2 separate regions of the Homo sapiens genome follow, and region 2 is reported to be linked to region 1. Evidence: microRNA targets listed by miRTarBase, many of them from high-throughput screens and not tested one by one. Region 1 holds a microRNA gene; the other region holds the end of a gene's coding sequence.

The links. The annotated mature microRNA hsa-miR-580-3p reads UUGAGAAUGAUGAAUCAUUAGG and lies in region 1 at 4,359-4,380, shown strand. An mRNA with a match to its seed (bases 2 to 7 or 8) in the 3' UTR can be bound and repressed. Matches are read on the target gene's strand: a 7mer-m8 pairs with bases 2 to 8, a 7mer-A1 pairs with bases 2 to 7 and ends in A, and an 8mer does both.
Region 2: the mRNA of AK2 is a reported target of hsa-miR-580-3p. Seed matches in the 3' UTR shown: 8mer at 3,874-3,881.

Annotation. Positions count from the first base shown.
Region 1 is chr5:36,145,162-36,152,286 of GRCh38, reverse strand. It overlaps MIR580 (microRNA 580), which reads left to right and starts at 4,299; the gene lies at 4,299-4,395. LMBRD2 (LMBR1 domain containing 2) reads left to right here and starts at 400. Exons shown (of 18, transcript NM_001007527.2): 1 at 400-731. SKP2 (S-phase kinase associated protein 2) reads right to left here and starts at 176. Exons shown (of 10, transcript NM_005983.4): 1 at 17-176. The coding sequence starts at 24. RefSeq lists enhancers at 1-59, 133-1,116 and silencers at 330-469, 1,070-1,129.
Region 2 is chr1:33,006,807-33,013,922 of GRCh38, reverse strand. AK2 (adenylate kinase 2) reads left to right here. Exons shown (of 6, transcript NM_001625.4): 6 at 521-5,937. The coding sequence ends at 742. Among named protein-coding and RNA genes, the nearest start is that of AK2, 27 kb to the left of the region's middle.

The DNA.
Region 1 (7,125 bases):
TTTGCAATCCGTTTACCTGTGCATAGCGTCCGCAGGCCCGGGAGTTTAAAATACGTGCATTAACTGCAGAGCTGCTCGCCTCCCAGATTCCCGCTTTGGCGCGCGGCGGCTCCGAGCGTGCTGCTCGGGCCCCCAGCAGCCAGACCCGCTAAGCCTAGCAACGTTCCATCCCCACTGCGCGCGCAAGGCTCTACAGCCCGCTCTGCTTCGCGGCCGCACTGAGGCCCAAGGCCTGCTGGGAATTGTAGTTTCCGTCCCGCTTCGTAGTCCGACGGGCTCGCCCTTACTTCCTTCCCTTGCAGCTTTACCCGCCTTCGAGATACCCACAACCCCCCGCGGGAGCGGGACTGGTCGGCCCACGGGGTAGGCGGGGAGGCGGAAGCGGGCGGCGCTACGGCTGACTGGGAAATGTCAGCCGCTGGACTGTAGACGGATTTTCCTTTCTCGGGAGCCCGCAGGCCTTCTGGTGATCGCCAGCGCTGTCGTCTCTGAGCGTGGATCCCAGAACCTGGACAGCTGTGGCGGCCGCCGTTTCCCGGTCCCGTCCAGACGCTGTCTGGCGAGATCGGACGGTGAGCCTAAGGCGGAACGCGTGAGGCGCTTTTGAGTCTGGGGTCCGGGGCCGAGAGCAGGCGGAAAGAGAGGGGACCCGGCAGACCCCGAGTGGCCGCCGCTGCGGGGCCCAAGTCCTTGGCTGCTGAGTGGTGACAGTAGCCCAGCCCGCCGGCCAGGTGAGAGGCTGCGAACTGCTGGCGTCGCACCTGTTCGTCCTTTTGCCAGGAAGCTTCTTCCTCCGTCGGGGAGAAGGCGGCCCTAAGAATTGGGTCTGTGGACGGGATCCTTCCTTTATCTGTAAAATAACGCACAACAGCTAAACACGCCGTTGGAACGAGAGACAATGGTTTAATTTTAGGGGAGCCGGAGACCCCAGCGGGTCCTGTGTGGTGGGAAGGCTGCGCATGCCCTTGCAGCCTTGACAGGTCTCATAAATAGCAACATGGGAATAAATGAAAGGACTGTATTTTGCAACGAGCTTTACCCGTGCACGCAGGGGGCCTCCAGCAAAGCCATTTGGTTGCTTGCTGTCGCTCAGCTGGCTACGTGTGTTTGCGTCGCCGCCTAAAAGCGAGCTGCTTTCAGCCTATCTCTGCTGAGAAGAGTTTGGGGGCAGTAAGAGTAGGGAGCGTGACATATTCCAGGTACAATGACCATGCGAAATCCATTGGGCAAACTATACTACAACTGTGACCCCGGGAAAACAGTGGAAGAGGGAAGGGGGATGAATTCTAAGCCTCATAAAAATGAAGATTTATAAAGTTCATAAGGAAGCATAACAGCTTCATCGCATATTAGAATATTCAGTGATGCTGTATGACACACCCTCTGGTTTCCTTGAAAAAATGATTCGCTCTGTAGTGAAATTAAACCTCCCTTGTGCAGGTATATGCTTGTTTCAAGCTTGGTCCTTAGCTTGAAAAGTAACTGCCTCTTGAGGAAGGAATTCATGAACCTTTAGCTCGTTCTTGAAAGATGAGATTGGTGTAAAGAAGGGATCTGTTCACAACTTGGTTTTGATTGGAACTAGGTGCAGAATCCTAGGCTAAGCCGTTCATCAAACTAATGTTATATGGAAAGCATTTTAAAATGCAATATCCTGATGTTTTACAGAAAGTGACCTTTATGTTACTTTGGCTAAGGAGAAAGCATTTGCCTTTGTTTGAAGCTACGTCCTTTCCCTGAAGATTGCAACTCATAGGAGAAAATATTTTTGACACAAAAAATTATAGTTTCCTTCAGGAAAGGGAACAAAACAGAGAGAGCCTGTAAGCTAATGGAGGAGAAAGAATAAACAAAAATATTTAAGATGCCATAATGAGAATAAACAGTTTTGAGATGTAAAATAATTGGGAGAGCCCACTTCAGATATAGATCTCATAGATAGGAAGGTTTAATCGATGAGATGATTCTAAATTTAAAGATGAGAAATATCTTTGTTCAGTCTTGGTTTTACTAGGAGTTACCTGGGAACTAGAATACTTGCAACATCTGAATTAGTGAACACAAGATCCTCTCTAGGACTTCAGGGAGAGCCTGTCAGTTTTGAAATTCAGTTTGATAGTTTGCCCCGGTAACAGACATACTTCATCTTCCTAATATGGGAATAATTTTTTTTTGCCTTCCTTCTAATCATGACTATTGCCTTAATATAATAAATGCAAGTTTAAATTGGTACATTAGATTCTTTTTAACGTAAGGAATTGTGTCCATTGAAGACGAGATTAGTAGGTACATAGAGGTTGCTATCTGGTCATAAAGAACTGCATTGTGATTGCTACTGATGTATCTTATTTTTTCTGATTAATTTTATTTTTATTTTTTGAGAAGAAATTTCACTCTTATTGCCCAGGCTGGAGTGCAATGGCGCAATCTCGGCTCACCATAACCTCCACCTCCCATGTTCAAGCAATTCCCCTGCCTCAGCCTTCCTGAGTAGCTGGGATTACAGGCATGCGCCACCACGCCTGGCTAATTTTGTATTTTTAGTGGAGACGGGGTTTCTGCATGTTGGTCAGGCTGGTCTCGAACTCCCGACCTCAGATGATCCACCCACCTCAGCCTCCTAAAGTGCTGAGATTACAGGCGTGAGCCTCCGTGCCCAGCCGATTCTTACATCTCTTTAAAAGGAAGACGGTCCACCCTTCTTTGTTTCTCCATCCTGCTGTCTAGATGATGATAGGATTCCTGGAGTTCCAGCATCTGTCCTGGAACATAAGGATTAAAGCCACCTGCTAAGGATGTGGACTATAGAAGGGGCCTGGGCCTCTGATAATCTGCTAACTTGCCATAACCACCTATCTCAAGACTTACACGAGAAATAAATTCTGCATTGTATAAGTCTGTACTATATTGGACTTTTCTGTTATGTGTAGCCAAACTAATCTTGAATAATGTATTTCCAGAACTGATAGTCTCTGTGGTGGTGGCAGCTACCTGTTTACATAACCCTTATCACCCCCTAATGTATTTTTTTTAATTGCCTGTTTCTTCCCACTAGACTTTTTAAGGGCAGGGACTTTGCTTGGATTTTTCTATCTCCAGCCCCTTGAACAGAGCTCACCATATAGTAGGCGTTCAGTAAATATTTGCTAAATGAATGAATGGTGCTTGGAACTAAGTAGATCTTTAATTCATTGTAATTTAATGCTCTAAGATAGGCAGCTTGGGGCAAGAACAAACGGATTCTAATTTACTCTATGTTTTCCACTTTTCCCATGTAGAGTACAGTCATATATTACCCTTAAATCAAGTAATAGTAGTATAATCTGTAATGTAAAAAGTTTGCGTTAAATTCTTTATTAAACATGACTAAGCATTCTGTCCTGATATATCTAAAAGAAATGGGAGAAAGTTTCTAATTTGTTCCCTGTGAAGACTGAACAAAATAAATCATTAAGCAATTTAAATTGCATTAAGAAACTATGTCTAGATTAGAGAAGAGACATGTAATTATGATCCAGGCTCTGTAGTAAAGATGCCTCTATTTGAATCCCAGCTTTACCATTCACCAGCTCTGTTAACTTGGACAAGTTACTTAACCTCTCTGCACTGTTTTTTTTCTGTTAAGCAAGGAAACGAACAGCCCTTTCTTACTAGGTTGTGAGGTCTAATTTGATAAAGCTTGGCAGGTACTAGTATTAATACAATGCTTAAAATTTAGTGAACACATTCTAAATGTTAGCTATTCGTTTTTTGAAATTATTTTATTATTAGGAAGGACTTTACAGATTATTCTCTATCAAAATGTCTTGCAATTTCTATGTATGAAATCTTTAAGAATTCAGTAAAATTTTAGTTCTTTTTTCTTATATGCTTACATGATTGCTACCTCTTCTCTTCATGCCTTGCAAAAGGTAAAGCAGGACAGTATGCCACTGTCCTCAGGGGCTTGTCACATTTTGGAATTCAGGTTACCTGGTTGGTTCGCCAACTCAGCTCTTAGGTACCTTTAAAAAATATTATGATGGTTTTTTTTTTTTTTTCATTTTTCGAGTGGGAGTAATAGTCTCTTGCAGTAGTCTGTGTCCTAAACTGAACTCTCTCATACCTGAAATCTTTAAATATGTGAATAACGATTATGTTTGGAAGATTTAAATTTAATTATTGGTGGAAAATTGTTGACTTAATCATTCACTTCTAATTCTGGTTCTTTTGATTTTTCATAATTAGGATTTTGAGTTGTCTCCTGGTTTTTATTATTTTGCACATATCTGAGTAAAAATACAGATATGTGAAGTTAGATAAAATTTCCAATTGGAACCTAATGATTCATCAGACTCAGATATTTAAGTTAACAGTATTTGAGAATGATGAATCATTAGGTTCCGGTCAGAAATTTTTCATTCAGTTTCAGAATCTTTGGTTTTGACAAAATTGTTGTCAGTGTTTTGTTTGTGTTCTGATCACTTGGTACCCATTCTCTCTCTCTCTCTCTCAAAACATTTGGAATTCTTCAAACTACAAAATTATCTTAACCTCTGAAGTTCCATCAAAGGGTATTTGGCCTGAAAAACTATTATCAGCCGTAAAGTACTCAGGAAACAGTACTTTAGTCAGTAACATTAGTCAGTAACATTAACACGCTAATTGTGAAACCATTATAAAGGCATTTGAAAGTAATATTGAATAATATTTTGATGATTGGAAAAAGATTGAATTGGATTTTAAATGTTTAAGACTTTCAGAACTGGTGTTTTGAAGGGTACGATATGCCCACACATCGGGCACTAAAATCTGGTAGTTTTAATGAATTGCCATTTTGATTTCGAGTATAATCAAGTTTTGCTACTGTGGTGCTTAATCACATGGAACTGAATTTTTATTTACCTCCCCATTTTAGTATCACCATCATCATCATTATCATCATTATCATCCCCTTTCTTCTCCTTCTTCCCTAAACCTTGCAACTCATCACTTGAATGTTGGCACAAGGTTAAAGATATGGACTTTGAAACTATTATTTTCTCAAGTTAGGAAAACCCCAATTTTTATCTCCAGTTTCATGGGATCACTGGTCCTAATCTGTGTCATAATAAGGCAATATAGTTCGGCCTCAACAGAAATAGATGGTATGGTAAACAGAATAATAAACCCCTAAGAATGTCTATGCTCTTATCTCTGGAACCAGTAAAAATGATGAAATTATTCAGGCAGGCCCAGTGTAATCAGATAAGCCCTGTAAAACAAATTTCAAGTGTGAGAAGAATTTGACAAGCCATTGCTGCTTCTAAAATATTCAGGACCACAGACACACACACACACACACACACACACACACACACACACACTCACACACACACACACACACGCAGAGAGAGAAGTGAGTGAGGAGATAGATATGTTAATTTGTTTGACTATGGTGATTATTTCACTGTATATGTACAGTATATCAAAACATCACTGTTGTGCACTTTAAATATATACAATTTAAAAACATATACAGAGCCACATGCAAAGACTGGGGAGAGGCCTCTAGAGCTAAGGTTAAATGCCAGCTGTCAGTTTGCAGGGGAACAGGGATCTCAGTCCTATAACCATAAAGAACTGAGTTTTGGCTTGGCTAGGTGGATCATGCCTGAAATCTCAGTGCTTTGGGAGGCCAAGGTGAGAGGATCACTTGCAGCCAGGTATTTGAGTCCAGCCTGGGCAACATAGCAAGACCCTGTCTCTACAAAAAAAATTTTTTTTTAAAATTAGCCAGGCGTGGTGGTGTGCACCTATAGTCCTAGCTATCTGGAAGCTGAGGTGGGAGGATCAGTTGAGCCCAGGAGCTCAAGGTTATGTTGAGCCATGATCATGCCACTGCCCTCCGGCCTGGGCGACAGTGTGAGACCCTGCCAGTAGCCTGAATGAGATTAGAAATGGATTCTTCTTCAGAGAAAGATGCAAACCTGCTGACACCTTGATTTTAAACTTGTGTGACCCTAAGCAGAGAACTAAGTTGAACTATGCTATGTTTGAACTTCTGACCTACAGAAGCTATAAGATATTAATACTAAATGGATGTTGTTTAAAGTCACTAAGTTTGTAGTAATTTGTTACAGCAGTGGTAAGATACTAACACATGAAGTGTGGGAAGGTATGTAACCAAATCATTTATTACTAGAATAAAGGATCCATAATTCTATTTCTTCATCTACAACCCTTTAAAGTGCTGACTATGAATCAGACTGAAAAACAGAGTGCCATAGTAAAAAAATTAATAGCTAGTGTCAGGTTTATAACTGATTTTGTTGTTTGCTTATTATGCCCATAATCTTACCACCTAAAGACTATTGATGTTTTAATATATTTCATTGTTACCTTACTCTTTTTTATGCTTATGTAAAAATATGTGCCAAATTTTCAATTGCTGTTAGGGTAATTTTCTGATGTTATTAAATAATCTTAACAAACATTATTTCTTATACTACAATAATATTTCATCATTTGGCTCTGCCATGCTTTATTTAGCATTTCTTTGGTAATCTCTAATATTTAGTCTTTTTTTTGTATGATTGTCATATTCCTTGCACTGGACAATTTCAGGTCTAGTTCAAGTCATAAAAGGATTTTCAGTTAATTATGTTATATTTAAACTCACATCAATTGGGTTTTTTTAAAGAAAAAAAACCCTAGATCTCGAAGATGGTTTTGTTATCAGCACATTCTGCATTGAGCTTTCAGCCAACTACTTAATCTATGCTTAGCTTAAAAATAAGATTTGGCTGGGCGCTGTGGCGCATGCCTGTAATTGCAGCACTTTGGGAGCTGAGGCAGGTGGATCACTTGAGCTCAGGAGTTCGAGACCAGCCCAGGCAACATGGCAAAACCTTGTCTATTTTTTAAAACATAAGATTTGACTTTGTTGTGGTATAAGTTGTTTCATAGAATATGAAATTTGAAAATTTGAGTAGTATTTGGTAATGTTCAGAGTTTTAAGCCTTTTGAGTTGTAATAAGTATTTGTTAAATCAGTTTACCATTACACGAGTTTTACATTGCCTTTGAAGTCGTCAGTAATAGAAAAATAGTGTATGTACTAAACTACACAGTATTTTTTATTATTTCAACAAATATTTCTTGATAC
Region 2 (7,116 bases), not on the chromosome of region 1:
GCAACTTAGTCACATTTTGCAAAGTTGCTAATTCTACCATTGAAAGTTCTTATTTTACTTGCCACTTTTAGAATGTTGATGGGTGACACTCTAGTAAATACACTAAATATTTAAGCAACTAAGATTACAATTGCTAATGTATCTTTGATTTTGATGTATTCTGGTCTTAGGGGCCTTTTTGACTTCCTTACTTTTGACCCTAGAAGTGTTTATCTTGGAAGCTGAATCGCCTGAGCACAAAGATGAGAAAGTCATTGCCTATCTTCCCCTCATGAGCCCCTTTCCTCACAGTTGGTGTTTCTGACAAACTCTCTGACTTCTGTTCACCAGCTGCTCTGCTCCTGGGAGTAGCAAAGTTCTTCACTGGAGAGGGTCTGGATTGCCTGTCTTTGTCTCTGATGGGCTTTGGGAACAGACAGCATCCTGGGCAGAATGGTCCCATCTCAAATCTGCATCTGGCATGGAATAAGAAAACCTTGCTAACAGTCCCAGCCTTTCATTGCTGTCTTCCTGTTCTCAGATCACCGGGGAACCCTTGATCCGTCGATCAGATGATAATGAAAAGGCCTTGAAAATCCGCCTGCAAGCCTACCACACTCAAACCACCCCACTCATAGAGTACTACAGGAAACGGGGGATCCACTCCGCCATCGATGCATCCCAGACCCCCGATGTCGTGTTCGCAAGCATCCTAGCAGCCTTCTCCAAAGCCACATGTAAAGACTTGGTTATGTTTATCTAATGTTGGGTCCAAGAAGGAATTTCTTTCCATCCCTGTGAGGCAATGGGTGGGAATGATAGGACAGGCAAAGAGAAGCTTCCTCAGGCTAGCAAAAATATCATTTGATGTATTGATTAAAAAAGCACTTGCTTGATGTATCTTTGGCGTGTGTGCTACTCTCATCTGTGTGTATGTGTGTTGTGTGTGTGTGTGTGTGCATGCACATATGTGTTCACTCTGCTACTTTGTAAGTTTTAGGCTAGGTTGCTTTACCAGCTGTTTACTTCTTTTTTGTTGTTGTTTTGAGACAAGGTTTCGCTCTGCCACCCTGGCTGGAGTGCAGTGGCGTGATCTTGGCTCACGGCAACCTCTGCCTCCTGGGGCTCAAGCAATTATCCCACCTCAGCCTCCTGAGCAGCTGGGACTACAGGTGCATGCCACAACACCTGGCTGATATTTGTATTTTTTGTAGAGACAGGATTTTGCCAAGTTGCCCAGGCTGGTCTTGAACTCCTAGGCTTAAGCAATCCACCCACCTTGGCCTCCTGAAGTGCCAGGATCACAGACGTGAGCCACTACACCCAGCCCAGCTGTTTACTTCTTTAACCATACTTTTGATTTTATTTTTTGACCAAAATGAACTAACCCAGGTAATCTTCCAGGGACCGCAATTCCAGAACCTCATAGTATTTCTTCCATTTCCAGCAGCTGATTAGAAGTCCAGGATCATGTGAAGTCAGGCAGGGTCACAGTTCCTGATGGCACATTATGGACAGAGAATTCCATTTTGTTTTCTAACCCATGATGAAAACCCACGTGAGTCAGTGTGTGAACAGGGATCATTAATTTTTTCCCCCTAGGTGGAAGGAAAAAGGCACTTACTTTGCAGGTTACAGAAATTACTGGGAGAGGATATCGTCATAAAAAGAGCCAGGCCAAATTGGAATATTTTTGTGATCTGCATCATGATGCTGAAAATAGCAATTATTTGGGAATTGGGTTTGAAAACTGAATTGTTGCCAGAGAATTAAACCAGGTGAAAGGTCCTTTTGAATTCAGATTGTCTTCTGAACATCCAGGCTGATCATCTGAGAGCAGTCAAATCTACTTCCCCAAAAAGAGACCAGGGTAGGTTTATTTGCTTTTATTTTTAATGTTTGCCTGTGTTTCCAAGTGTGAACAAAACAGTGTGTGATCTATTCTTGGATTCATTTTGATCAGTATTTATTCAAACCCAGTCTCTCTCCAGGACATAAAACTGAAATCAGATATGTTCTTTTTAAGCCCAAACCCTCTCCTTTCTAGATCCAACCCTTCACCCCTAATTTTATGATGGCTATAGCCATGGACTTCCCCAAGAAAAGATCACCCAGAAATAAGACCACCTGTGACAGTTACCAGCTTTTATTCATAACCTTAGCTTCCCAACTATTGAGCATTTTCTAAGGTCCCTGCTGTCTTTTGGTCTCTGGTTTGATTTGTGGCAAACAGATGAAGTAACAGACTGCTATGAAGGACCACAAAAACGGCAGCCTCTGGAAAAACCATTAGAAAGTCAGTGGCAGATCCAGTAAATAATATCGCCAGCCTCAGCATAATCTGCTGCTGACTCGATTCAGTGGACTCTAAAGTGCCCAGCCTCCTGACCTGAGCTCTCCTGCCATCTGTGAGACTACCAGAGGTCTTATCTGCTGTCCACATGGCAACTGGGCATGAGTACCTGGCCACCTTGCTTCCCTCTTTGCCTGGTCCAAGTGAGTGTCTGCTGCCTCTGTCCTGCCTTGTTTTCCTGGCTCTAAACCAACTCCACCCACTCTTAATGGAAACTCAGTCTGGCTTTGTGTGTTTCTGGGAAGCACATGACTTCTGGGAATGGGCAAGGAAGAGGAGTGAAACAAAAACTGTCAGCTATGTGTGCCTGGTCTGGGATCCTTCTCTGGGTGACAGTGGCATCATGAATCTTAGAATCAGCTCCCCTTTAACTAGGGACAATTGTAAGCACTTGGCCTCAAAGTTGAGGTTCTTGAATGTTTGCTAATTTTATGTGCATGATCCTTGCCCAAATATTTGTCATCCGTCCACATAGATTCACGTGTGCATACAACATGTACAAGTAATATTTGGGCTGCCCATAAGAACTGGAAGATTCATAGGGAATGCATATACCCTTCTCAGTATGGTTAGGATTCTGTTTTTGCTTCATTTAATTCCAGAGTTCCTCAGCCTCAGCAGGTTCTGCTTTTACCTGTCACAGAAATGTCCAGTGTTTAATGCATTTGGTTGCTGGGGCTTACATGCCAGCCTCCTCTGATATGTACTTGGTTTTTAAAAACCCATTTTGTTCTCTCTTGTTTCCTCTCTATTTCAGCCTAGTATCAGAAGGCCAGGCGAGACTGCAACACTGCTCATCACCCCGCGGCGTGATCCCTGCTCTTAGGTGCTGGGCAGAGGGGAAGGGTGGTCAGGGTGAGGATGGTGAGGGAGGGCTGGTGAGGGGCTCAGAGGAATACTTGGAACAACAGCAGTGTTATTGTAGTGTGGCAGTTTCTTTTATACATAGGTGAGAGTTTTTAAAGTGTAAGGGAAAAATTAATTTTTTAAAAAACACCATGCTTGGAGGGTGGGGGTAGAAATAGACACAATATTATTTCTAAGGAATCGGGTTTTCATTTACTCTGGACTGGTGAAAATATTTTTTAAAGCCAGTGCTCTAAGACCTCAGCTTTTATCTCAGAACCCCATGGGTTCCAGACCAAGAGTACAGGAAATCAAATTGTTGTCCTGTCTGTCTATAGCTTGGAACAGGGAGCTTTGATTACTGACTCCGGTTCCACACACTGTAAGATCAAAAAACCATCTCCACATTTGAAAGAGATGTAAGGTGTATTCATAGGGATGGTGGCTCAACAAATCAAGCAAACTGGAATCAAGGGGAGGGGGAAGGGAATGAAATGGAAAGGGAGGCTGATTCCCTTCCCCTGACTTACCACTAATTTACTAGGCTACCTACTTTCATGAGTAACCTCTCACAGCTACCCAGCACATGCCACAATCCTATGCTCTTGCCTTCTTTTATCTGCACTGTGTGAAGGGACTCTTTTAAATAAATGAGCAAGTGTCCTAAGCTATGTCATCCAAAGATTGTCCTTTCCATTCTCAAATCCTGTGACTGGGATCACTCAACAGCACTGTGATGTATTATTTTCAATGAGGTGCCTTTCTTAACTGACCAAATGCTGCCTTGTTTGGCCCCTAAATCAATAAAATATGTTAAAATTTGTATCCCCTGTTGTGGCATTTTTTTTAGATAATCTAAGCTAGAAAAATGACATTGAATTCTGGACCTGGCTGGAAGGAAAAGAAGCCCTTTCTTGTCGCTGGCAGCTGTGTGGTAGGGAGGTCCAAGTATGTGCATATGAGATAAGCCTGCAACCTCTTGACCTTCAGCTCCTATGCAGGCTTCTCTTGAGCCCAGAGACAAGGCAGCTTGGTCTAGTGGAGATAGCACTGTGCTTGGAGTTCAGGGGACCTAGGACAAATCCCAGCCAGTTAGTTATTCACTGTGCTCCTGTTTCCTCAGCTGAAAAAGGAAGTTGGTTATGCCACCTTCTTGGCCTTAATGGCATTAAATGAAATTTATAGGAAGAAGGTTTTTGCTCAGTACCTGGCATGCAACAGACATTGGATAAATGTTAGTTGGATCCAGATATACACAGAAAGATATCTGCTTCCTGCCAGGCTGGATAACTGTTGAATGGACACTTGTCCATAGTCTAGAAAGCCAGTGCTTCTAATCCTTAAGCCAGATCTTTGACTACCTTTTCAGTTGCTTCTTTAACACTCTTTGTTGCTTCTCTGTGTGTCCTAGTTTAAATTCATTTCCTCTCCAGCAAAAGTGAGCTTAAATAATTTCTCCAAACTAAAGCTCTCATGTTTTTGGAAGGGCTGCCTTTGCAAGTGAGGTTTCTGAGAAATGACTGTTGTTCCCAAAACAAGAGGGAGCTGGGCTGGAAGCACCACTATTCTTCTTTAGGCATCTTGTTACAGAGAGAGGCAGGGTCTTCACTGACATATTAAATCCTGTTCCCTGAACCAGCCCCTCCCTCTTCTGCTCCACTTCCTCACCTGTGCAGAGTCATTTTCAGGTGTTAGCCTTACTGATTTGCACTGATCTGTTTGTTCCCTGAGCTTTTTAAATACCCTGTGAAAATTTTCTTTCCTCCCTTGGTCATCATGCATCTAATTGTGGGGAAATGTTTGTCAAACCAACCTGCAAAGCAGCATGGTGTAGTTGAGAAGAATAAACAGAGAAGACTGGGTGAGCTATTGTTTGTTTGCTTCTTTGGGCCTGGGTTTCCTCATCTAATCTGCAAACCAAGAATGCAGACTAGTCCTACCACTCCCGGAAGACTGACGTTGTGCCAGGTATTATGCAAAGGCTTCATGTAACCCTCGACTTCACGTAACCCTCACACAGCACCCTGTGGAGTCAGAACTGTCCTTCACTTTTATAGGTGAGGAAACCAGACTCAGAGAGGTGAAGTGGCATTCCTGAGGTCATGCATAAGAGGCAGTCAGGACTGAAACACAGTCTCTAACACTTATCCGTCCCCTTGATCTTGTTGCTGAAGTGATTTAATTACTTGCGTAGCTCTGCACACAGGAAGGGCTGCTCTGAATAAGAGCTCTTTTCCATGGACACTCAGCGCTGCCGGAACTGATTTTGAAGAAGTCACTGCCGGCTCTGAGGGCCTAGGGTATGTGTCTTAGGATCTCCTGTGTGCACAAAGTGTCACTGACAGAACACAGCAGGATGGAGAGCAGCCTCCTCAGAAGCCTCACAAGTCTTTCCTCAGATGAAGACAGAGCAACGAGTCAGAAGACAGATTTCAACAGCGACTTCACCATGCGACCTTGGACAAGTTATCTCACCTCATCAGTAGAATAGGAATGATCCCTACCCCTCAAAGGTGCTGATGACACTAGTGACCAAGATACTCATGTGGGTTGGACTGCCCAGGACACAGCAGATGCTTAGTAAACACAGATGGAATTCAGAGGGAAAATGTAGGCATTGAAGAAAGTTGTCTTACTGACCATCCGGAACCAGGCTAAGGATCCCCTAGAAATCATAGACCTCTGAAATTATATGCAGAATTCTTTATGTGTTTTCATAATTAATAATAGTCTAACATATTAAATTCTTAGCTGTGTGAGAGGTTCTGCATGCATTATCTCATTTATTCTCCTCGATAACCCTGTGGAGGTAAGTATTGCTATTATCTCTATGGTATGTCTGTAGACTTTGAGATTCAGACATCTGATAATGGCAGAACCAGAGCCTGAGTCCAAGTCTGGCTCCACACCCCAGCCTCTTAACACTGTGCCAATTGCTTTGACACTTTGCTGGGGAGAGATGAAATGATCTCAAAGGCACTCATGATACAGAAAAGGCTATGAGCCATGGATCCAAACAAAAGGAGAAACTCAAGTAGGTTTGCTCTGTTACAGTGAAGGACCTGCCACAGGTAAGACCTTTTTCTATTTTGCCATCCTCCGTTGTTTCCTTATTGTTGGTACTAAAGTTCCAATGTGCTGGATTTGCATAGCTCCTGGAATCACCCGTATTCCAGAAAGGCTGGAGGGGTGAGTTATGTTGGGGGAAGGAGCCGGTTCCCATCTCTTGTCCTCCACGATTATCTCCTGGTTCTGGATAAGGTGGCCAGGAGAGGGTGTGTATGTAGGCTGTTGAGTCACAGGCAGCCGTCTCAGATTGCAGCTCTGTGTAGCTGATGGTGTTGCATTATTCATAACTCCAGGGGGAGCAGTGTGCTTCTGATGTTTTGGGAATGCAGCAGCTTTGGGTTTAGAGTCATCCATGGCAGTGTGATGATGAGCTGCTCTCACAGAGGGCCCCTTCCAGGTGCCCAGTCCAGATTGAGGTGCCCCCAGCAGAAAACAGGTGGAAATGGAAAGACAGAGCATCAGAGGGCAAGACAACATGGGCCTAGATCCTGTGCAGGTAGCCCTCAAGCCAATAAGCCAAACAGATCTGCACTTTGGGGGTAAAGTTGCTATGGAGCAAATAATTTGATTGTGTGGTGTTCTGTAAGGGTTTTGCAGACAAATTCCTCTGAGCTTAGCTAGGAGTTCATTATGCTTCCTGTTTAGCTGGTCTTCTTTCTTCTACTAAATAAGAAATGCTTCATTTTTGGCCGAGCACGGTGGCTCATGCCTGTAATCTCAGCACTTTGGGAGGCCGGGGCATGCGGATCACAAGGTCAGGAGTTTGAGACCAGCCTGGCCAACGTGGTGAAACCCCGTCTCTACTAAAGATACAAAAAAATCAGCTGGGCATGGTGGCGCCCACCTGTAATCGCAACTATTTGGGAGTT